Regions from separate parts of the Homo sapiens genome. Here regions 2 and 3 are each linked to region 1. Evidence: fine-mapped expression QTL. A gene starts in region 1. Each other region holds a variant in brackets. All regions are shown on one strand. Distances are between the middles of the regions.

Region 1 (8,175 bases):
TGACTCACACCCTGGGAAAAGTTCCCGTGGGTGGGGGCGGGCCTGGCTTCCCATCTCCATGGCAACCCAACCAAACCAACAACACAGCTGGGGCGGGCCCTGTGGCTGGGCGGCAGCCAGTCCAGCTCTTGCTTCCTCTGGCCCGTCCTGGGAAGGGGGGTGTCTAGAGCCCAGGAAACTTCTTCTTCCGTGGCTTTTGGGGCCCTGGGCCGCTGGAGGAAGCTGCTCACTTCTCCCTGGAAGTCCCCAGGACAGACCGATGCCCCTGACAGCCCCGTCCACCAGCCACATACCCTGCTGTTCCTCTCCCTGCCTGTTCTGCATGCCAGTCCTTCCGTGGTACCCCATCTGTCTCTATTGTCCCCCTGCCCCAGGCCCCGGGATCAGCTGCCCCCCCATCCCCGCTCCCGCCGCTACTCCGGGGACAGTGACTCCTCAGCCTCCTCCGCCCAGAGCGGCCCCCTTGGTACCCGCAGTGATGACACAGGCACTGGCCCCCGGAGGGAGCGACCCAGCCGGCGGCTGACCACAGGCACCCCGGCCTCTCCGAGACGGCCTCCTGCCCTGCGCAGCCAGTCCCGAGACCGGCTGGATCGCGGCCGGCCCCGGGGGGCCCCAGGAGGCAGGGGAGCCCAGCTGTCGGTCCCCAGCCCTGCCCGGCGGGCCCGGAGCCAGAGCCGCGAGGAGCAGGCTGTGCTGCTTGTGCGCAGGGATCGAGACGGGCAGCACTCATGGGTGCCAAGGGGCAGGGGCAGTGGGGGCTCGGGCAGGAGCACCCCCCAGACTCCCCGTGCCCGCAGCCCTGCAGCACCCCGGCTTTCCCGGGTCTCCAGCCCCAGTCCAGAGTTGGGCACCACACCGGCCAGCATCTTCCGCACACCCCTGCAGCTCGACCCGCAGCAGGAGCAGCAGCTGTTCCGGCGCCTGGAAGAGGAGTTCCTGGCCAATGCCCGGGCCCTTGAGGCTGTTGCTAGCGTGACCCCCACTGGACCAGCCCCTGACCCAGCTCGGGCCCCCGACCCTCCAGCTCCTGACTCTGCCTATTGTTCCTCCAGTTCCTCCTCTTCGTCCCTCAGCGTCCTGGGTGGCAAATGTGGCCAACCTGGGGACTCTGGCCGGACGGCCAATGGGCTGCCTGGGCCCCGAAGCCAAGCCCTTTCCAGCTCCTCCGATGAAGGCAGCCCCTGCCCTGGCATGGGGGGGCCACTAGATGCACCTGGGAGCCCCCTGGCTTGCACTGAACCCTCGAGGACCTGGGCACGGGGTCGGATGGACACACAGCCAGACCGTAAACCCTCACGTATCCCCACGCCTCGGGGCCCCCGCCGCCCCTCCGGACCCGCAGAGCTGGGGACATGGCATGCCCTGCACTCAGTCACCCCGAGGGCTGAGCCAGATTCCTGGATGTGATGGACCAGCTCAGCTGTCCCCAGACCCCATCCCTTCTCCTTTTCCTTTGTGGCCTTAACCCTTCTGCATCAGGGAGCCCCCTCTGCCTCTTGAGTACCAGACCTCATGGGACCAGACCCCTTGGGACCACATGGCACAATGGGACCTCTGTTGTACATTCCGGTTGGGGGATGAGCGTTGCTATTTAATTACTAATATTATTGAATGCCTTAGAGGAGGCCGGGCGAGCCCGGTGTTCTGAAGACCTGTGGCCCAGCAGAGCCTCTGACAGTAAAGTTTTGCTCCAGCCACCTGTCTGTTTCTTGGGGACTCCACCTTGGGGCCATTCAGACCCTTTCGAGGACCCTGGAGTTAACTGCCTGGAGGCCAAGCCTGGCAACTCTGACCTCTAGGCTTAAGGCGTTATCCCGCCCAGCCCAGAAATCCCAGGCGCACTCAAATTATTTTCCCTTTTATTATCCCGTGGTAGGTGTGGCATAAAGAATATGTCCAGTGAAGCTCCAGGAGCAGGCTGCGTGTTTCCAGTCAAGTTCATAGCCAAGTCCTTTCCATCCAATGGGATTGTGACCCATTGAGGTCCCAGAAAGGACTGGTCATCTCCAATGGAGCTTGGGACCTGGTTGGGTCCAATGAGGTTCAAAAGGGGGCCAGTCGCTTAGGAGACTGGGTTGGAGCTTTCCTCATCCAATCAGGGCGGAGACTTCCCTGTCCAGTCCCAGTGAAGTTGGGCGATCCCGTCCAATCCAGGTCCCTGATTGTCCCAGTCACAAGGTGGGGCCCATGGATGGCACTGTCCGATCGGGTCACATGAGGCTGCAGCGCGCGGGATGCAGCGCCCCCTGCAGGCGCAGGGCCGGGTGTGCAGGGCGCGCGCGCACCAGAGCGCAGCGCAGCAGCTCGCGGAAGAGACGCAGCACGTGCCAGTTGTACTTGGCGGAGCACTCGAGGTAGCCGCAGCGCCAGCCCCTGCGCACTAGGGCGGCCAGCGCGCGCCGCGGTCCGAAGCGCAGCCGCTGCCTGTCCCGCTTGTTGCCTACCACGAGGATGGGCGCTTCGGGCGCGCCCGCCGGCCTGGGGGCCGAATGGAGATGAGAGACGCGGGGACCCCACGGCCGGAGAATTCCCCCAGTGGGTATACACACGCAGGCGCATTCCCTTCCTACGGCCAGAGACACCGCCCCCCCCGCCGCCCCAACGAAACCCCAGGCCCATGTGGGCCAAAGAGCACATACAGCTTAAGACCTTCCCACGGGCGAAGGCCTAAGACCCGGCCCACGACGTTGGGAGACCCTACACACTCTCCTCAGGCAAAGGCCCTGCCAGACCTGTCCTAGCTCCCCACCGCCAGAACTGCCGGGCCCCTACCTGGTCTCCGCGATGCGCTGCCGCAGGGCCTTCACGTAGTCGAAACTGTCCGGGCTGCAGATGTCGTAGACGAGCACGAAGGCGTCCGTGTCCTGCAAGCTCCAGTCCTTAGCGTCTGGCCACTCCTGGGGACAGGAGGCCAGGGTTTGCGGAAGCCTCCTTTCCACTCTTCCGCTCTCGAACCCTCTGCAGGGGCCTGGACGCTAATCCTCAGGCCAACATCACCCCCATACAGACCTCTGTGCCCCTCCCCCAAGCTTTCCGGGCCGTCTCCTCATGACCACCAGGGTAAAATTTTCCAAATCGTGCCTGGAGCCTGTCAGCCAGCCTCCTTCATCCTTGGTCTCCCCTCTGTTTACCCCGAATCTTCCTCTTTTCAGCTTTCCCCAACTCGGCTCAGGCCGCTCTCCTCCCTAGATGCTCTCGGTGCTTACCACGGCCTCTAAGACTAATTCCAAAGCCCTTGGCCCGAGTCCCGTGGTCCACCACGCCCCCAGATTGTCAGCTGTAACCGTTTATGACCGTAGCGTAAGCACCTGCTGGTCTTTCCACCTGGTATGTTTTTGCCACTTCCTTTACTCAGAACTTCACTCGGTCTTCCAGGTTCAGCTCAAATGCCACTCCCTCCAGGAAGCCCTGCTTAATCCTGCCTGCTCTTTCCTCTTCACTGCTCTAGGGTCGGAGGTCTGTCCTTTACTTTGCACAAATTACTAAACGAGTCTTCGCTCCAGGGGACAAAAATGATAGGGCAGAGAATGAACCCCTCCACCAGCCCCCGTAGAAAGTACACCCCTGCTCCTGACCCCAGTCTCTCCCATTGTAGCTCTGCTCAAGGCCCCAAACACAAAACGCCACACTCTCGGGAAGGCACCGTTATGCACCACCAAGAGCTGCTCCACACCCCCAGCCGAGGCAGGCAAAGGTGGAGGCGCTCACAGGAGCAAGGGAACGCCCCTGGGCAAAATCGCCCGGCCTCCAGCCTGGGCTTGGGCGTCTCCAGGTCGGCGGGAAGGGCTGAAACGCAAGTATCCCAGGACGCACACACATCCCTCCATCCCGGAGCACAGCCAGGCGCCCGAGGCCTCCACGCGGACACGCACGTGTGCACCGAGCACGCACACCCCTCACACTGTCACACGCCCCTGCCCGCTCCTCGAGCCGCTACCTCCGGACCCCCGGGGCTCGAGCCGGGGCCAGCGACGTCGCCGTCGCGGATGCTCAAGTCGTAGACGGCGCCGTCGAGCAGCACCGCGGGTCGGTAGAGGCGCGGCCCGTCCGTGGGCCGGTGGCGCTCGGGGTAGTCACCGAACAGGAACTGGCGGATGATGGCCGTCTTGCCCACGCCCGGGGCGCCTAGAACGGCCACCCGCAGGCTACCCCCCATGGCCGGCCGGCGCTGTCGCTCCCCGCGCTGGAAAGCCTCATGGGCCGGCGCCGCACCGTGCGCCCCCAGGCCGTGCGCCCCGCGCGCCCTGCCCGGTGCGCCACGGCCCCGTCGCGCTTCTCGTCGCCCCTCGGAGCACCGAGACCGGAGAGGGCAGGCCCGAGGCAGGAGCTGGCGGCGGGAGGGCAGACAGACAGCCGAGTGGGCAGACAGGTGGCGGGCGCGCGAGCGGCTCGGGCGGGTGCCGAAGCTCGAGAGAGAGCAGAGCCGGAGCGGCGCTCAGACACCGCCTCCGCCCCGCAGCGCCAACCCAGGCGCCGGCGGACGCGCGAGGCGCCGAAGTCCGCCCCTCTCGCGGCGCGGGTCCCGCAGCGGTGCGGGGCGCGGGGGGCAGCGCTGCCTCCCGGAGCCTCTGTGCCTCTATCCTTCTCTCGCTTCCGCGCCTGGAGTCGCCGCCCCAGCCGCCGGCGCGAGCGAGCGGGGCCTCCCGGAGGCGGCGATGAGGTAACCGCCCGCCCCTCCCACCTTCCCCCACCGCCCAGGACGCCCCTCCCAGGAAGGGTCGCAGGAAGGTGACTGGGGGACAGAGATCCCGGAGAGGGCCTACCCCTTCCTTACCTCCTCCGCGTGTCCCGCTCCTCTCACCCGCTCCAAAATAGAAGCCCCTTCCCACCCACTGCCGCGGCCGCTCTTCCAAACACTGCTCGCCCCCACGCTGGCTCCCGACAAGCCCCGGCCCCCGGAGTCAGGCCGCCCGGGGTCCGAATTGGGGGGGGCGGCTGTGTGACCTTGGGCGAATCGCCGCACTGCGCTGGGTCTGCGCTCCGCATCCATCACAGGCAGACTCCTCAAGAGGCTCCAACCTTTTCTTGAGAGCCTACTATGTGCCAGGCCCATTACCTACGTGATTCTCGAACCTACAGCCTCAGCCTGGCATCGCTGGTTGAGAGAAGAGGAAACAGGCCCGAGAGGGGAATCTGCAAGGTTAGAAGGGCAGTGGGGGGGCCCTTGAAGTCTCCTTTGAAGTCCCTCCTACCTTCCTCCTGCCCACGGGGGTAAATGGCCCACACTAGACAATATTCAAACAGCCGTCCTCGAGGGGAAGTGGGGACAGAGGGTGCCGAGACCACAGCAGCTTAGCCCCAGATCCCTGTCCCAGCAAGGCTGGAGGTGACTAAATAAAGATCCAGAAATTGGCCCACTCCACCTCCATCACTACTAAGGTCACCTTTCCTGCGTGAGTTGCAACCCGTAGCGCCCCTCAAAGGGATGCAACCTCCAAAACAGGCGCCCAGAGCCCAAGTTCCCCCTCCCTCGAGCTAGTGGAGAAGCTCCTGCCCCATCACAGCTTGGAAAGCCTGGGTTAGCCCAGCCCCCCCATCCTCCGCCTCTGCTCTCCTCCCCGCTGTGTGGGGGCTCCCACGTCTCTGACCTGCACATGGCAATGCTCAAGAAATGGCGGCAATGCTCAAGAAATGGCCGCAATGCACAGATCTCTGCACTGACTAAGGAGTTCATTTATTTATCCCCTCAACAAATATTCCAAATCTTATTGCTTGTCAGGAGGCTGAGATAGATTTAAAAAACAGAAAACAGGAAAAAAAAAAAAAGTTCTGCTTTGGGAGAGAAGGTTCTAGAACACATGGGATCTAGGGACTGTCAAAGCACAGACAATGTGCCCACACCAGCCCAGGGGAAGTAGAGGAGCTAAATCCTGAAGGGGGAGGAGGCACATCCTCCAGGGAGCCTGTATAATGACAACCAGAAAGTGTCTCCAGAACAATGGCTGTGCTTTCATCCTCCCATGCTAGATCGGGGGCTGGGGTCCGCTTTCACTCCTCTCCTCAGCCACTAGGAAGCTCAGAACCACCTCTGTCTAGTGTTCCAGGTCTTCTAGCTCAGTGAGTGGGGACTGCTGGCTTCATCTTTCTTTCCTACCATGATTTTTCCCTTCACTTGATGTCCTCTTTCACGTTGTAACTTTTCAGACTTCTGGGTTTTGTTGTTTGAGACAAGGTCTTGCTCTGTCACCCAAGCTGGAGTGCAGTGGTGTGATCTTAGCTCACTGCATCCTCAACCTCCTGGGTTCAAGTGATCCTCCTTGCCTCAGTCTCTCAAATAGCTGGGACTGCAGGTGTGTACTACGACATCCAGCTGATTTATTTTTATTTTTTGTAGAGGTGGAATCTCACTATGTTGCCCAGGCTGGTCTTGAACTCCTGGCTTAAGCAATCCTCCCTCCTCAGCCTCCAAAAGTGCGAGGATTACAGGCGTGAGCCACCACATCTGGCCAAACTTCTGGGTTTTTGACTTTTCAGGCTTCTGGGTTTTGTGAGCTGCTTCAATTCCTTCGGGGAACAAGGCAAGGAGTAAATAACAAGGCACTCAGCAACACAACAACAAAACCCAGAAGTCTGAAAAGCTGACACCAGGACGGTCTTTTGTTTGTTTGTTTTGAGATGGAGTCTCGGTCTGTCACCCAGGCTGGAGTGCAGTGGTGCGATCTTGGCTCACTGCAACCTCCACCTCCTGGGTTCAAGCAATTCTCCTGTCTCAGCCTCTAGAGTAGCTGGGACTACAGGCACATGCCACCATGCCCGGCTAATTTTTGTGTTTTTTAGTAGAGACGGGGTTTCACCATATTGGTCAGGCTGGTCTCGAACTGCTGACCTCAGGTGATCCACCCGCCTCAGCCTCCCAAAGTGCTGGGGTTTCAGGCATGAGCCACTGCGCCCGGCCAGGACGGTCTTTTTTAAGGTGTTCTCAATGCTAGGCGCACTCCCGCCCACCCCTGGGTATTCTTTCTCTGAAAAACTTTCCTTGCTTCTCCTTCCGACACTGCAAACAGAGCTGTGTGTGAGGCGTCTCTGGCTCCCAGTATGTGTTTTTGGATGGCGAGGGGAAGGGGCACTGTGGACTGGGAACGTCCTGAGGCTCCCATGAAGCCCTGCAAACGTGCCATGTTCCCTAGGAGACTCTCACAGCAGCGTTCCTAGCAGCAGTGCCCATTTATCAAGGGCCTGCGATGTGCCAAGCCTGACCCACAGCCTCATGCTCACTAAGGCTCCCTGGGACGCCATGATTGGGCCACAGTTGCCTAGCAGGAAAATGGCAGCACAGGGGCCGGAACCCAGGCCCTTGGGCTCCAGAGCCTGGCTGAGAAGCCTGGCTTCATCTGGACCCAGAGGGTTCTCAGGAAGTACTCAACTGAAGCTCAGCCCCCAGTGACCACTCAGCCCCCTGTCGGGAGGGACTTGGGGAGGCCTCTAGGTCCCGTGGAGCCCCCCATCCACAGGGGCTGAAATGAGCTCTAATGGGAGTGTGCAGCCCTGTGCCAGGCTTCCTAAAGACCAGCAGGCTGGGGGGCTGAAGCTGCCTGTCTGCCTGGGATGTGGATTTCAGGGTTCTCTCATCAGTCCCCTCATTCCTTCCCCAAGGAAAGGCTGTAGGCCTCCTGCCTGCTGCCCCCCTCCAATCCCTATTCCCCAGGGGCCTCCTGGGCACTCCTTGAATGCCCCTATCCAGGGCTCCAGGGACCACCTGCCAACTATGCATGCATCTTCTCCTTCAGCAGAGGGGACTGGCACTAGGCACACAGTGGCCAAGGTGGTCCTGCCTACCCTCTGTGGCAGGGAGAAAGAGACAGACATGCAGCTAGGCAGGGACGGGTGAAGACAGGAGCTCTGGGCTGGTTCAGGCCTGGGGAGATGAGGAGGCCTAGGGTAAGCACCAGTCCAGCGGGAGTTGAGGGGCTTATACTGAGCCCTGAAGGATCAAGCCACAGATAGTGGGGAGGGCTGGGCAGGGGCAGGCACCAGGTGGGGAATTCTGCTTTCCCCAGTTCATTGCCCACAGGCTCCTAACACCAGCTACCTGGCCTTCACCCATGTGTTTCTTCCCAACTGGGCCTGATTCCAGCCCATCCCTGAAGTCAGGCACCCAAGACTGCATCCAGCTCCCAGGGGGTGTTAGTTCTGGACTCCTTTGCTAGGCCACACCAGTCACCACTAATTATG
Region 2 (8,175 bases), 29 kb before region 1:
GGCCTCCCAAAGTGCTGGGATTATAGGCATGAGCCATTCTCGCCTGGCCTTGACCTGGTCTGTTTTTAATAAATGAGAAACATAAACCCACAAATTCTCTAAATTTATGATGCCATGGACTTACGTAAATGTTACTTCAACCTAAAACTTAACATTATTGTTAGTTTCTGGTCTTCAGCAGTCCCCTTTGAGAAAAAGCATTTATTCCCTAACAGATCACTTCTCCCGGATCACCTAAACTGGTAGCACACAATATCGCAACGCACTTTTATAGCGTTTACTGTGATGAATGGAGCATATTAATGTCTCTTCTGTGGATATGATTGATTCTCCCCCTTCCTTAGTGTTGTCTTCAAGCAAATATAGTTGGACCGACACTGAGTTTGATGTAGTTTACTTTAGGATTGTATTTATTATTGTATTTATTTCCAGGCTTAATCATAACATTGCTTATTGCTCGTAGCTTTGTAGCATTCTTACCCAGGAGTTTTGTGGTTGACCAACCACACAAAAAAAGTCACTTTTTAATTTTATTTATTATTTCTCCTCTTAGACCGCAGGATGGAAACAAGCCCACTGAGACTAGTCAACCTCAATCTAGCACAGGGGGTTACAACCAGCCCAGCCTAGGATATGGACAGAGTAACTACAGTTATCCCCAGGTACCTGGGAGCTACCCCATGCAGCCAGTCACTGCACCTCCATCCTACCCTCCTACCAGGTCAGTCTACTTTTTGTGGCAAAACAAAAACAGTGACAAAACAGTTTTTTTCAGGTTGTTGACCAGCTTGCTTTGACTTCTTCAGCTAAGGTATGTTATCTGACTGTCGCAGTGATAAGTCATCTGACCATACTTGGTTACATTAAAGCCTGAGATCTAGGGTCCCATAGTGTTGCCTGGCAGCTAATAACTATTCTTTTTTCTTTTTTTTTTTTTTTCCCCCGAGACGGAGTCTCTCTCTGTCGCCCAGGCTGGAGTGCAGTGGCGCGATCTCGGCTCACTGCAAGCTCCACCTCCTGGGTTCACGCCATTCTCCTGCCTCAACCTCCCGAGTAGCTGGGACTACGGGTGCCCGCCACCACGCCCAGCTAATTTTTTGTATTTTTAGTAGAGACAGGGTTTCACTGTGTTGGCCAGGATGGTCTCAATCTCCTGACCTCGTGATCCACCCATCTCGGCCTCCCACAGTGCTGGGATTACAGGCGTGAGCCACCGCACCCGGCCCAGCTAATAACTATTCTTTCTAAATACAAAAACATTTTTACCACTCTAAGTTCTTTCTTTAAGTTTCTTCCTTTTGCTGTTTTAGTTAACTCAGATGGGAAGCAGAAGTATATGAAAGCATGTAAATAGATGTAAGAGCCATCTTCCCCAATGCAGTTAGGATAAGTAAAGCGCAGGGCATTATAATTCACCTTAATCATTTTACATTTTACCTAACACATAAAGGTTTATTCATGCACTAACCTTTTAATGTATGGGCCAACTCTTTTTATTTTATTTTTATTATTATCGCCTGGCCAAGTTTTCTTTTTTGAGACAGAGTCTCACTCTGTTGCACAGGCTGGAGTGCAGTGGCACGATCTCCGCTCACTGCAACCTCTGCCTCCTAGGGATTCTCATGCCTCAGCCTCCCGAGTAGCTGGGACTGCAAGTGCATGCCACCACACCTGACTAACTTTTCTTTTTGTTTTATTGTTGTTTTGAGATGGAGTTTCGCTCTTGTTGCCCAGGCTGGAGTGCAATGGCACAATCTCGGCTTACTGCAGTTTCCACCTCCTGGGTTCAAGTGATTCTCCTGCTTCAGCCTCCTGAGTAGCTGGGATTACAAGTGCTCACTACCACACCTGGCAAAAATTTTTTTTTTTGTATTTTTAGTAGAGACAGGGTTTCACCATGTGGGCCAGGCTTGTCTGGAATTCCTGACCTCAGGTGATCCACCCGCCTCCACCTCCCAAAGTGCTGGGGTGACAGGCGCGAGCCCCTGCGCCCAGCCAGTTTGTTTGTTTGTTTTGAGATGGAGTTTTGCTCTTGTTGCCCAGGCTGGAGTGCAATGGCGTGATCTTGGCTCACCGCAACCTCTGCCTCCTGGGTTCAAGCGATTCTCCTGCCTCAGCCTCCCTAGTAGCTGGGATTAGATACAGACGCCACCACAACCGGCTAATTTTGTATTTTTAGTAGAGACGGGGTTTCTCCATGTTGGTCAGGCTGGTCTTGAACTCCCATCCTCAGGTGATCCGCCTGCCTCGGCCTCCCAAAGTGCTGGGAATACAGGCATGAGCCACTGCGCCTGGCCCAGTTTTTGTATTTTTAGTAGATACAGGGTTTCACAATGTTGGCCAGGCTGGTCTTGAACTCCTGGCCTCAAGTGATCCGCCCACCTTGGCCTCCCAAAGTGCTGGGATTATGGGATTACAGGTGTGAGCCACCATGCCCAGCCTGCAAGTTTTCTTAACCCATGTTTAATTAGATGTGGGTTTTCAAATTGTTTGAATTGTGCCCTGAAAGTTTTGCTAGAAGTAGCGGTTCCCTTTTTTGCACTCATTTCATTGTTTTGCAGCAGATGTGAACAGGTTTAGGAACAAGTAGAATTGATTGGGTGTCTCTCCATACAGCCAGCTTGGAGCAAAAGTGGGTAGGGCTTACAACCCTTCTTCCACAGAGCAGGTTCGTACCTATTGCATTGAGAGCAGTTAATAGCAGTTAATCTGGCAAGTTGGATAGGTACACAGTGAGAGATTATTGAATTCATACAGCAATGGTGAGGGATGTGGTGTGTTAGAAGCTTTGTTTGTTTGTTTATTTTTGGAGACCGGGTCTCACTCTGTTGTCCAGGCTGGGGTACAGTGACACAGTCGTAGCCCCCTGTAGCCTCGAACTTCCTGGCCTAGTTTAATCGGACTTTAAAATATGTGTCCTTACTGTTTCTCATCATGATTTGTAAAGCTTAATACCAGATGGGTTTTTTTGTTTTTGTGTGTGTTTTGTTTTGTTTTTTTGAGACGGAGTTTCACTCCTGTTACCTAGGCTGGAGTGCAATGGTGCGATCTTGGCTCACCGCAACCCTCGCCTCCCAGGTTAAAGTGATTCTCCTACGTCAGCCTCCCAAGTAGCTGGCATTATAGGCATGTGCCACCACACACAGCTAATTTTGTATTTTTAGTAGAGACGGTGTTTTTCCATGTTGGTCAGGCTAGTCTCGAACCCCTGACCTCAGGTGATCCACCCGTCTCTGCCTCCCAAAGTGCTGGGATTACAGGTGTGAGCCACTGCTTCTGGCCCTTGTTTTTTTTTTTTTTTTTTTGAGATGGAGTTTTGCTCTGTTGCCCAGGTTGGAGTGCAGTGGCGCTGTCTTGGCTCACTGCAGCCTCTGCCTTCCAGGTTTAAACAGTTCTCTTGCCGCAGCCTCTCGAGTAGCTGGGACTATAGGCGTGTGCCACCATACCCAGCTAATTTTTGTATTTTTAGTAGGTGGGGTTTCACTATGTTGGTCAGGCTGGTCTCAAACTCCTGACCTCAGGTGATCCACCTGCCTTGGCCTCCCAAAGTGCTGGGATTACAGGCATGAGCCTTCAAACCTGGCCAATACCAGTTCTTTTCAAGCTTCATTTCTGTGCAAGAATGTATCTATTAATTTCTCCCATGTAATTGACATAATCTTAATATTTGTCTTTCATACAATTCCTTCATTCTGAAGTTTCCTCTATTAATACTCAGATTTCATAGTTAATCAGGCATGTCTGAAAGATTGAAAGTAGCAAAGACAAATCTTTGAGGGAAAACTACTATTTTTGTGTTGAGTACCCTTATCCCTTCAGAAAATCGTTAACTCGAGATTATTGGCGGGCAGGCTTGGAACTGAATGCCTCACTTCACTCTCTCTATATTTTCTCAGTCCCCATTTCACTGGGTCAGCCTTCCCCAAGTGCATATTCTTGCCACAATACAGGAAGCATCTAAACTCCCATATTTGCCTGCCTTGAATATAGTTGAAAATGACGTTTTGTTTTGTTCTTTTGAGACGGAGTCTCGCTCTGTCGCCCAGGCTGGAGTGCAGTGGCACTATCTCGGCTCACTGCAAGCTCCGCCTCCTGGGTTCATGCCATTCTCCTGCCTCAGCCTCCCCAGTAGCTGGGACTACAGGCGCCCACCACCAGGCCTGGCTAATTTTTTGTATTTTTTAGTAGAGATGGGGGTTTCACCATGTTAGCCAGGATGGTCTCGATCTCTTGACCTCATGATGTGCCTGCCTCGGCCTCCCAAAGTGCTGAGATTACAAGCGTGAGCCACCGCACCCGGCCTGATTTTTTGGGTTTTTTTTTGGAGACGGAATCTTCACTCTGTTCCCGAGTCGCCAAGGCTGGAGTACAGTAGCGGATCTCAGCTCACTGCAAACTCCACCTCCCGGGTTCATGCCATTCCCCCAGCCTCAGCCTTCCAAAGTGCTGGGATTACAGGCATGAGCCTCCGCTCCCAGCTGAAAATGACCATTGTTTTAAATGGGAGTGGCGATTAAGAGAAAACTCTTTAAGGATTATACAGATGGTGGTTATAATATTTCCCCCTCCCAGCTGGGCACCGTGGCTCATGCCTGTAATCCCAGCACTTTGGGAGGCCGAGGTGGGCGGATCATGAGGTCAGGAGATGGAGACCATCCTGGCTAACAAGATGAAACCCTGTCTCTACTAAAAACAAAAAAACTAGCCAGGCGTGGTGGTGGGCACCTGTAGTCCCAGCTACTCGGGAGGCTGCGGCAGGAGAATGGCATGAACCCGGGAGGCAGAGCTTGCAGTGACCGGAGATCACGCCACTGCATTCCAGCCTAGGCAACA[G/C]AGCAACACTCTGTCTCAAAAAAAAAAAAAAAAAAAAAAAAAATTTTTTTGTTTTACCCTCCCATTTAATGTTTTATTCTGAACACAAAAGTATTTGCTGAGTTGAAATTCAAATTGTTGATGTGTAGAAAGTAACTACTGTTTTATGGATGTCTGTGTCACATGGTGTGAATGTCTCTTTTATTCAGGGGATTTGAAATAACAAGCCTCTTTCTAAAAAAGCTTTTTTTTTTTTCTCTTCTCTCTCTTTCAGCTATTCCTCTACACAGCCGACTAGTTATGATCAGAGCAGTTACTCTCAGCAGAACACCTATGGGCAACCGAGCAGCTATGGACAGCAGAGTAGCTATGGTCAACAAAGCAGCTATGGGCAGCAGCCTCCCACTAGTTACCCACCCCAAACTGGATCCTACAGCCAAGCTCCAAGTCAATATAGCCAACAGAGCAGCAGCTACGGGCAGCAGAGTGAGTTGCTAAGAGAGAAAACCAAATAAGAATGAATGTGTTTAGAGTTTTTTTGTGGGGTTGATTTTTTTTGTTGGTTTGTTTTTCTTTTGAGATGGAGTTTCACTCTTGGGGCTGAGGCTGGAGTACAGTGGTGCCATCTCAGCTCACTGCAGCCTCCGCCTCCTGGTTCAAGCAATTCTCCTGCCCCAGCCTCCCGAGTAGCTGAGATGATAGGCGCCTGCCACTATGCCCAGCTATTTTTTGTATTTTTCGTAGAGACGGGGTTTCACCATGTTGGTCAGGCTGGTCTCGAACTCCTGACCTCAGGTGATCCTCCCGCCTCAGCCACCCAGAGTGTTGGGATTACAGTCATGAGCCACTGCGCCCAGCCACGTTTGGAGTTTTTGAACAGGGGGAATACTCTTTGCCATTGTTTGCTTTTGGAATCCAGGACACATCTTTAGGGCATGGCATTCCAGCTAACATCTTGGATGCCCCAGTGAAGATTTCAGTGCTTTTTTCCAATTTGTTTTTAGTATGCCTTGGCAAAAAAGAAAAGAGATACTAATTGATCAGAAAAAATGTTTTAGACTGCTAGCCCTGCTGTCTTTGGGGAAGTTGTATGCAGTGAGTAAATTCAACATCGTTTTTGGCCTCCCTATCAGTCATTAATGTAAAGTGGGGAGGCAGCTATTGCAGGCCACTATGATTTTGATAGTCAAGTAAAAGCTATGTTTTTTTGTTGCTGTTTGTTTATATCCATTAAGGGGAAAAATGGCCAGGCATGGTGGCTCACACCTGTAATCCCAGCACTTTGGGGGAGGCCAAGGCAGGAGGATCACTTGAGACCAGGAGTTTGAGACCACCCTGGGCAACATAGTGAGACCCTGTCTTTTTAAAGATAAATAAAGATTCTTTAAGAAAATAGAAAAGGAAAGGGGGAAAAATAATCCTCCTCACAGAATATTTGCAGTTCTTCTGTATGGAGAGAGGTAACCAAAACACATAATTATCTTCAGAATTTAGGATCATTGCTCTTTTTAAATTACATTCTATCCACGGGGATTTCTCAACAACTCAAAGGAGTAGTGTTGATTTATGGAGCTCAGCCCCTAGCAGTGTGCTAAAGCCCTAAGAAACCTGGCTCTGTTTTCATTTCTTGAGTTTAGCTCAAAAGAAGCTGCTTTTGGAGACATCTTAGGATATAGAACCCTATAAACTATATGTTAGCCAGAGGGCTTTTTTTGTTGTTGTTATTTAGAAGAGGTTTATTATAGGCTAACTATATAAGGTTATTTCAGCTGTGATGATCCAGCAGTTTTGTTGAACTTAAAAGAGCCTACCTATTAAGGATGCTTTATCGTGATGTAAAGAAGATGGTGCCTTGGTTAGTGCCTTGGAATTGAGGATTTTGTGATTCCAGGAGAAAGTACATCAGGCAGTGGTGTAAATGCTGGTCCATGGCTTACAGATGTGACTCTTTCCTCAGGTTCATTCCGACAGGACCACCCCAGTAGCATGGGTGTTTATGGGCAGGAGTCTGGAGGATTTTCCGGACCAGGAGAGAACCGGAGCATGAGTGGCCCTGATAACCGGGGCAGGGGAAGAGGGGGATTTGATCGTGGAGGCATGAGCAGAGGTGGGCGGGGAGGAGGACGCGGTGGAATGGGGTAAGAGCAAACCTTTTCTCCTTTTACCTAATTTTGTTTCATCCATAGGATTTTCAGTGGAAAGAAGGGACTGAAAGACATAAGAAATTAATTTCTGCATTTCCATGGACAATCTGTTGAGCTCAAGCCATCTTCTAAAACATGGAAATGTCATCTTTGTGGCATATATTAAGTGGCAGTTTATTTTCTTTCCCTGCCAGTATACTTCGTTGGGTCGGGGAGAACAAAGAATGGTTTTGAAACCAGAGCTTTCAGTTCCCTTCATGGTTTCCAGAGGTGAGAAGCCTCTGTGGGTAGTAGATTTGGGATGGAACACACACAACCCTTCTAATGACCCTAAGTTGTTAACTAACTGCCTTTGAATGGTTGTCTTGAAATACCTGGTGTATATACTGCAGAAAAGGAATGCAGCTGTTTTCCACAGTGTTTGTCCCCAACTTCTGTTTGTACTCAGAATCGTTGAACATATGAAGATTTTGGTCCCATAATCCTTAAACTATAGCCTGAGGTGCACCTGATTACATAGAGTTTGGATGGAGCAAAGAAAAATCCAATAGCATTTTGCAGAGTAATGTATATAATTATGGGCTCACTTCCTACTGGAGATGTTGAAAGTCTAAATCGGTTTGACCATTTTGATTGATGGCACAATCTGGTTTAGAAAACTTTGTTTAGATCAATGACATAACCCTGCTGCCTCTGCCTGCCCTTCCCCTCCCTTCTCCCATCCCCTTTTCCCTATCTGGTGTCTGTACTTTGATGAAGGTGAGCTATAATATTGGTGGTTAACATAATCCAGAAGGCTTAGTTCTGTGTGTGTTCTGTCCCTATATAAACTGGTAAAGAAAAAAAAAAGTTATGCAGAATGTTAGATATTTACATTTGATACGGTGTGCCACTATTCAAGGAAAAATTAAATAGCATTTTTTAAAAAACAGAATGAACTTCAAAATTAAAGTTGATTTTTAACTTCCATATTAGCAAATACTCTTCACTACTGAAAGACAGTACTATTTTGCATATTCTGCATAACTTTAAGAAAGTCTTTAGTGAAATCTTTATTGGAAGAAAGTCATTTGACAACAGGCAAAAATTTAATGATTCGGTATGAAGTAAAATCAATCTTCTGATTTGGAAAATACTCTATTATAAAGGTTTCACTTCTTTTTGGATGTTTTAAAATAGACATAGACACTTGAAAGTACTATCATCACGTCTCAAATCA
Region 3 (8,175 bases), 31 kb after region 1:
ACCTCACTGCACTTTGTGTTGTGTTCTAAGCACCCTGAAGGCAGGGAGCTTGGGTAACTCTGGGGCTGGAAGCCAGTCCCACCCACAAGATACCTGTCTTAGGAGCGGGCCTGGCTTCCAGGTCTAGTTCCTGGGACAAAAGTTCCCCTGCTTGAGTGAGGGCTATGCTGGGCACAGCGGGGAGGTTGGGGCACCCACCTGAGTGGCCAAACTGAGGACCTGCTGCACCAGCTCCTGGGTCTCTGTTGGCTTCTTTAGAAAGAGTTTCACAATGGCTGTCAGCAGCTGCAGCTGGACCTGCAGGGAACAGCGGTGACGAGGAGGAAGTGTGGGCCTCACATGGGGATAGAGGGAGAACAAAAAGGCTTGAAGAGGAATAGGGTGTTCAAAGTCCCTGGAAGCCAAGCATAGCTATTCTAGGTTTGGGGCTGTCACGGCACACAGGCAAAGGGCTGCCACAAGTGTTGGTGCCGCTGAGCAGCCAGACCTCGGCATCACTCACTCAGGAAGGAGCTGAATACTGGACTATTTGGCAAACCCAAGTAGGCCAGGGGCCGCTGCCCAGCCCTAGGGTTTTAGAAACCTGTTGGAGCTCTAGAATTCACAGAACTATGAGAAGCTCACATGTGTGGCTGGAGTGCTTCTTATCAGGACCATCTGTCAACAAGTGGCGACAGTCCCATGGAGGCCCAGGGGACTGGGGCAGCAGGGCCCACAGAGCCTGCCGTCAAGGACCTGTGCTTCTACCAGAGGGTTGGAACTATTCCTGGTGGCCCTCCACCGGCCCCTGCCACATGCCTGGACATACCCAAAGCTGCCCTCATCCTGGCCAACACCTCCTCACCCTTCAGATCTCATGCCAACCCCACCTCCAGACCCCCCATGCTTCTGCAGCCTCTTCCACCCCGTCACAGCGCCACCAGTTGCTGGCTATCCTGTACAGTGAGCCCCCTGTGGGCTGGAGTGATGTCTGTCTTGCTTACTGTCGTGTCACTAATTACTGCCCAATCTAGTGCCTGGTGTATAGCAGGCACTTAAGAAATACTTGCTGACTGAAGAAACATCTATGCGAGAACAAGTCTCTGCACATAATCCTTCCTTAGTCACGGTCTCATTTTTGCTAGTCCTAGGACAAGGGGGCAGCCTGATGCTCCCGGAGTCAGGGGCAGTGGGAGCCCATAGGCTGTGCCAGGGACAGGTCTGCAGCAGGAGGGCAGGAGTGGCAGTGCAGGAAGCCCAGCAGCAGCCGTGCTGACGGCATCTCTGGCACCTGCCCAGCAGGAGGGCACTTGTGCAGGGAAGGCTGACAGAGGCAGGCAGAATGGAGGGCACGTGGTCCTCCAATTCTGGGGTGAACCAGAGTCTGCAATTTGGTTACATGGGGGCCAGCAGCAGATGAGCAGTAGGCTGGCTGTTTCCAAGGCAGGAGGCAGCCCAGCATCTGGCTTCCAGACTCTAGCCCTGCCTGGGCAGCCAATGGGAAGCCGTTTACCCCCATCTGTAAAGGAGAGGTGTGGCCTACTTCAGGGATTCTTGTGAGCTTTAAAAACAGCAACTTATGGCAGCTTGCTTGGAGCTGGAGTCAGATCACACCTTATGTGAACTCCAGTTCTATCACTTCTCAGCTGACAGACCCTCGGCAAGTCATTTAGCTTCTCTGAGTCAGTTTCCTAACGTATAAAACAGTCATTACACCTCACAGCGTTAATGGAGAGTTGATGAAACCACAAATGTAAAGAAGTGGCCAGGCGTGATGGCTCACACCTGTAATCCCAGCACTTTGGGAGGCCTCGGTGGTTGGATCACCTGAGGTCAGGAGTTCGAGACCAGCCTGGCCAACATGGTGAAACCCTGTCTTTACTAAAAATACAAAAATTAGCTGGGCCTGGTGGCAGGTACCTGTAATCCCAGCTACTCGGAGGCTGAGGCAGGACAATTGCTTGAACCCGGGAGGCAGAGGTTGCAGTGAGCCGAGGTCTCGCCATTGCACTCCAGCATGGGGGACAAGGGCGAGACTTTGTCTCAAAAAAAAAAAAAAAAAGTAAAGAAGCATTGTGTATTCTGCTCACTACAGAACAGCTATCATCATCACAGTCATTATCACCACTACCATCACACAGGGACTCTTGAAAGAGTTCTTCCCAGTCCAGTCAGCCGGATGCCTGGAATTATTCATCACTGTCAGATCTGCTGTGGTTCCAGTCAGGTATGCCTCAGGCTGTATTGCCAGAGGGAGGTCTGGCCAGGTGCCCAGGGCCCTGGCTCAACAATCCGTTCCAGTTCCTCTCAACACGCTCAACACACTCAGGCCGTTAGCCTGCATATTTAGGGCAGCCTTCTGCAATAATGCCATTGCCCCTGCCATCCAGACAGGATGGGATGGCAGGACAGGGCCAGACGCTGGGCTGATATACCACCCTGGCCAAGATTTTTTTTTTTTTTTTTTTTTTTTTTTTGAGATGCAGTCTCACTCTCCTGCCCAAGCTGGAGTGCAGTGGGATGATCTCATCTCACTGCAACCTCCGCCTCCTGGGTTCAAGTGATTTTCCTGCCTCAGCCTCCCGAGCAGCTAGGATTACAGGCACACACCATCACACCTGGCTAATTTTTGTATTTTTAGATGGGTTTCACCATGTTGGCCAGGCTGGTCTCAGACTCCTGACCTAAAGTGATCCACCCACCTCGGCCTCCCAAAGTACTGGGATTACAGGCGTGAGCCCAGCTGCTGACCAAGACTTTCTAAGTCTGCTGTCCATGGCTAGAGAGGCCTAGGAGCCAAGGATGAGAAGATTCAACAAGACAATATAAAATGAGTTCCATAATTGTCAAGCCCGGTGCAGTGGTGCAGGCCCATAGTCCTAGCTATTCAGAATCCTTTGAGCCCAGGAGTTCAAGGCTAGCCTGGGCAAAACATAGTGAGATTTCGCCACTAAAACAAACAAACAAAAAACTCCAAATCGTCAAGCACTAAACAAGTATTCTTTTTTTTTGAGACAAGGTCTCGCTCTGTTGCCCAGGCTGGAGTGCAGTGGTGTGATCTTGGCTCACTGCAGCCTCAACTTCCCAGGCTCAAGCAATCCTCCCACCTAGGCCTCCCAAGTAGCTGGGACTACAGGTATGTGCCACCACACCCAGTTCATTTTTTTTTTTTTATAGAGATGAGGTCTCACTATGTTGCCCAGGTTGGTCTCGAACTCCTGGACTCAAAAGATCCTCCTGCCTCGGCCTCCCAAAGTGCTGGGTTACAGGCATGAGCTGCTGCACCCAGTTAACAAGTTTTGTTTTGTTTTTTTTCTTTTTTCTGAGATGGAGTCTCGGTCTGTTGCCCAGGCTGGAGTGCAGTGGTGTGATCTTGACTCACTGCAGCCTCAACTTCCCAGGCTCAAGCAATCCTCCCACCTAGGCCTCCCAAGTAGCTGGGACTACAGGGGTGTGCCACCACACCCAGCTAATTTTTTTTTTTTATAGAGATGAGGTCTCACTATGTTGCCCAGGTTGGTCTCGAACTCCTGGACTCAAAAGATCCTCCTGCCTCGGCCTCCCAAAGTGCTGGGGTTACAGGCGTGAGCCGCTGCACCCAGTTAACAAGTTTTGTTTTGTTTTTTTTCTTTTTTCTGAGATGGAGTCTTGGTCTGTTGCCCAGGCTGGAGTGCAGTTGTGCGATCTCGGCTTACCGCAACCTCCGCCTCCCGTGTTCAAGCGATTCTCCTGCCTCAGCCTCCTGAGTGGCTGGGATTACAGACGCACACCACCATGCCTGGCTAATTTTTGTATTTTTAGTAGAGACGGGGTTTCATTATGTTGGTCAGGCTGGTCTCAAACTCCTGCCTCAAGTGATCTGCCTGCCTTGGCCTCCCAAAATGCTAGGATTACAGGTGTAAGCCACTGTGCCTGGCCCTAACAAGTATTCTTAAAAGAGCTTTGAACTGTGTTGTGAACCAAAGATGCAAAGTGAACAGGCTACTGAATTACATCACACCCCCACTTTACAAACAAGGCCCAGCAGTCTTTGCAATAACTGCACTAGAGACAAGGAAATGGGTTTGGTGAGTTCAAGTAACTGTGCTCCAGGCCACACAACAGGGAGGAGGAGCTTGGATCTCAAACTTCAGAGCTCTGTTTCTGTTCACACCACCAGACTCTTGGCTTACCTCTCCCTGTCCAGCTTCTCTCATTCTAGCTTTTTAGCAGGCTTAGCTGCAAAAGACTGACCCTATTATAGGGGCAGAAGCACACCCCTACAGCAGCGGTTCCCAGCCTTTGTGGCACCAGGGACCAGTTTTGTGGAAGACAATTTTTCCACAGATAGGGGATGCGGGTTGGGGGATGGTTTCAGGATGAAACTGCTCCACCTCAGATCAGGCATTAGGTTCTCATAAGGAACACACAACCTAGATCCCTCTCATGTGCAGTTCATAATAGAGTTTGCGCTCCTATGAGAATCTAATGCCGCCGCTGATCTGACAGGAGGCGGAGCTGAGGCAGTAATGCTTGCTTGCCCGCCGCTCACCTCCCGCTGTGCAGCCCAGTTCCTTACAGGCCATGGTGGCCCGGGGGTTGGGGATCCCTGCACTACAGGACATCCTTGCAGTGATCCCAGGCAGGACTTGACTGCAGGAGCAGAACCCAGCATAGGCAAGCTTTGCTTCTGAGACAGAGGGAAGAGGCTGGTATTGCAAGCAAAGGCAGTCTGGAGGCAGGTGGCAGTGGGGGGGGGTGACGGTGGGAATTAGTACTGTGATTCTGAGATGGACATCTGTTGTTT[T/C]TGCTCACCCAGCATCTATTCTGTCTTCTGGGAACAGAAACACTGGCTTTCCTTCAGAGCCTCGCCCTTCTTTCTGTCCCTTTCAGTCCACACAAACTGGGATCGGTGCCTGAGAGACCTCGCCAACCAGAGTCACAGTGCCTGGCTCAGGATAATGCAAATAGGTCCTGGGACTTTTGCTGGAACTACTGAGGGGAGGGGAAAAACTCTTCCCATGGGAGTTATTGTGCCATAAGGACATAGCCTGGAACTGTTGATTCCTTACAGCTCCCACTGTTGGGAGCCTATCCATGGCAGAAGATAGCTCAATGCCACCATCCAAGCACCCTCAGCCAGGAGTCCCAGAAGAGAGCATGCTACCCACACTTGCCAGCTACCGGAACCAGTTGGTCCCCTTTTTGGCCTGGACTAGTTTGCTTTTGAAACCAATTTGGCCCAAACCAACACTACCATGAACGAGTGTTTATTATGGGCTGGCCATGTGTCAAGGACATTACACAAAGCACCCTAATTTAACTTTCGTAGCAAGAGGATGAGGGAAGATCTAATGATTCTCATTTTACAAATGAAGAAACTGAGGCTCAGAGAGTTAAAGGGATAAGCATAAAGTTACTGAGCCAGGAAGGGGCAGAGGAGGGGTATGGACTCTGGGATCTCTCATTCTAAGTCCCACACTTGGACCCACGGGATTACACAACCCCAGTTGGGCAGCAAAAATTTCTGTGCTCACCAACAGACTAACAGACAGTTCCCAGTTAACTGAGAAAAGGGAATACAAATGACAAGGCAGACATTCAGCCTCATTCATAACAGAAATGCAAACAGAACTACAGTGAGGTACCCCTGTTAGCTACTGGACTGGCAAAAACAAAGCAGAAGTAAGGAGAGGGCAATCCCAGCATCTGAGATAGGAGTCTAAACCAGCACAACCTCCACAACAGGAATCTGGCAACAGCTACCCAAATCTCAAACTCACATGCTCTTTTCTCTAAGCATCCTGCTCCTATGAATGTATCCTCCAGCTATGCCTGCAGATGTGCATTACACAGGTTATTCTCGGCAGTACTGTTTCAATGAGCACAAGACTGGACACCTAAATACCCACCAGGAGAGGATGGTTAAATAAAGCATAAATGAATGAGAGCATGGTCTTTGCAGGTGTTGGTAACAGAAAAAGGCAAGGTGCTAAACAATTTGAATTTACAGAGTATGCTACAGCAGTGTTTAAAAATAAATGAGAGGGCAGTGTAGATACAGTTGATTCTCACTACTTGAGCAATCCATGTTTGTGAATCTGCCTACTTGCTAAAATTTACTTGTAGCCCCCAAATCAAGACTCATGGTGCCTTTGCAGTCATTTGCAAATACGTGCAGAACCGTGAAAGCTTTCAGTTGCCTGACACACACATTCACAGCTGAGGTCAAATAAGGCAACACTCATGTTTCAGCTCTCATCCTGTAAACAAGCATCCTTTCCACCACCTATTTAGTGCCATGTTTTTCACATTTTTGAGCTTTTTGTTGATTTCCTTGTTTAAAATGCTCCCTAGCACTGAAGTGCTTGCCTAGTGTCCCCAAGCACAGAAGGCTGTGATGTGCCTCAGAGAAAACATGTCCTTGATAAGCTTCGCTAAGGCATGAATTACAGTATCCATGGCCATGAGTTCAATGTCAATGAATTGACAATATATATTAACTAAGGTGTTTTTAAACAGAAACACACATTTAAAAAGGTTATTAACTGATCAATTGACAAAAACGTTGGGTCTAGATGCTCACAGAAACTAAACTCTATATTTCTCCTAGGAGCTATGGTTCAGTACTTGCTAATTCAGTGTCTGCCATGACTATGGAACAGAAGCACCATGAAAAATAAGAATTGGTTGCATATGTGTGTGTATGTGTGTATAGGAAGGATGGGTGCATGTGTGTGTATCTGTGGGTCTACTGGTGTATTCCTAAATGATCTCCTGAACTTTCCTAAGAAATCAAAAAAGTGATGACTTCTGGGAGGAGAATTTGTGTCCTACAAAGTGATGAGAGGGAAACTTTTCACTATATATGCTTTTGTATCAATTTTAAACCAAGTCAATATATTTCCTATTAAAATATGACTATGGAATTAAAACAAAATGAAGAACTTTTGCCTGCCTTCCACGCACACCACCACAGACTCTCACGTGTCCCCGACTCGACTGTACTGCAGTGAGGAGGAAAAGGGGCGGTGTCCATTACGCGCACATCACTCATCTGTCTGTCAGGGCTGTTTACGAGGTAATAGGAAGGGAGGGTTTCATGGCAGTATGGGCCACAGTGGGGCTGAGCTGCCAGTCATGACTCACACCCTGGCCAGCTCGCTGGCTCACCTGTGTGCTCTCGTCATGGAAGCCCTCGAGGAAGCTCTCCAGCAGCTCATCTGCGTTGTCGATCCGTTCCGCGTACTCGCCCACAATCCAGATCATGGCAGCCCGGGCCTCAGGCTCATCCAGGGAGTCCAGATTCTCACACAGTGTGGCAATCACACTCTCATACCTGGGAGACCAGGGCACAGTTGGTATGGGAGCCCTCAAGGAGAACGGGAAACCCAGGGAAGCCAGACAGGGGCCAGGAGGGAAGGGGACCTGCCTCCTAAGACCCCAAGGTGGCAGGTAAAGGGGATCTGAGTTTTGTTTTTTTTTTTGAGATGGAGTTTCACTCTGTTGCCCAGGCTGGTGTGCAGTGGTGTGATCTCACCTCACTGCAACCTCCACCTCCCTGGTTCAAGCAATGCCCCTGCCTCAGCCTCCCAAGTAGCTGGGATTACAGGGACATGCCACCACATCCAGCTAATTTTTTTGTATTTTTAGTAGAAACATGGTTTCACTATGTTGGCTAGACTAGTCTTGAACTCCTGATCTCAGGCAATCCACCCGCCTCGGCCTCCCAAAGTGCTGGGATTACAGGCAAGAGCCACCACACCTGGCCTGGGGATCTGAGTTTCATCTGTCACACGTTAGCCCTTATTTTGGCCTGGGGAGTAGAGGAGGGGCAGTGTGGACGAAATAAAAAACAAAGGGTTTCTTTTGAGAATGACGCTTGTGGCCAAGAAGTAAGGAAGAGGAGATTCCTCCTTCCTTTTCTGCCCCGCCATCCCTGTCCCCAGGCAGAGCTAGATGCCCTCTCCCTAGGAGGGCGGGCACGCACTTGTTGGGGTACTTGCGGAAGATGTCCTTGATGACCACGATGGCCTCCTGGACCACATAGTTGACCTTGGTCTGGATGAGGTCGAGCAGCGTGCTCACACAGCGCTCCGCAGATTGCTGCATGGGAAGAGAAGAGTGTGGGCGAGGTCCCCGCACCCCATTTCCAGTAGAGCCTCTGATGTCCACGCCTCGGCCAAGGGCTGCAAATCACTTCTGGCACACCTTCCT

Direction of the effects. Alleles are on the strand shown, and positions count from the first base shown. SD is a standard deviation of normalised expression in the study named. Not every link is listed here.
As copies of C replace T in region 3, the expression in caudate of the gene that starts at base 4,610 in region 1 goes down (moderate effect, 0.52 SD a copy in GTEx).

What was found.
Region 2: its variant is fine-mapped to the expression of RASL10A in whole blood (TOPMed, PIP above 0.99).
Region 3: its variant is fine-mapped to the expression of RASL10A in caudate (GTEx, PIP 0.97). The same link has a PIP of 0.9 or more in putamen.

Annotation. Positions count from the first base shown.
Region 1 is chr22:29,311,088-29,319,262 of GRCh38, forward strand. RASL10A (RAS like family 10 member A) reads right to left here and starts at 4,610. Exons shown (of 3, transcript NM_006477.5): 1 at 3,941-4,610; 2 at 2,776-2,900; 3 at 1,846-2,481. The coding sequence starts at 4,159. The coding sequence ends at 2,214. It overlaps GAS2L1 (growth arrest specific 2 like 1), which reads left to right. Exons shown (of 6, transcript NM_001362985.3): 6 at 375-1,700. The coding sequence ends at 1,410. RefSeq lists enhancers at 1-54, 2,997-3,801, 3,802-4,606.
Region 2 is chr22:29,281,837-29,290,011 of GRCh38, forward strand. It overlaps EWSR1 (EWS RNA binding protein 1), which reads left to right. Exons shown (of 17, transcript NM_005243.4): 6 at 554-721; 7 at 5,087-5,298; 8 at 6,770-6,950. Among named protein-coding and RNA genes, the nearest start is that of EWSR1, 18 kb to the left of the region's middle. The variant G/C (reference allele first, on the strand shown) is at 4,834.
Region 3 is chr22:29,342,087-29,350,261 of GRCh38, forward strand. AP1B1 (adaptor related protein complex 1 subunit beta 1) reads right to left here. Exons shown (of 23, transcript NM_001127.4): 10 at 7,949-8,064; 11 at 7,132-7,297; 12 at 199-297. Among named protein-coding and RNA genes, the nearest start is that of SNORD125, 13 kb to the left of the region's middle. The variant T/C (reference allele first, on the strand shown) is at 4,766.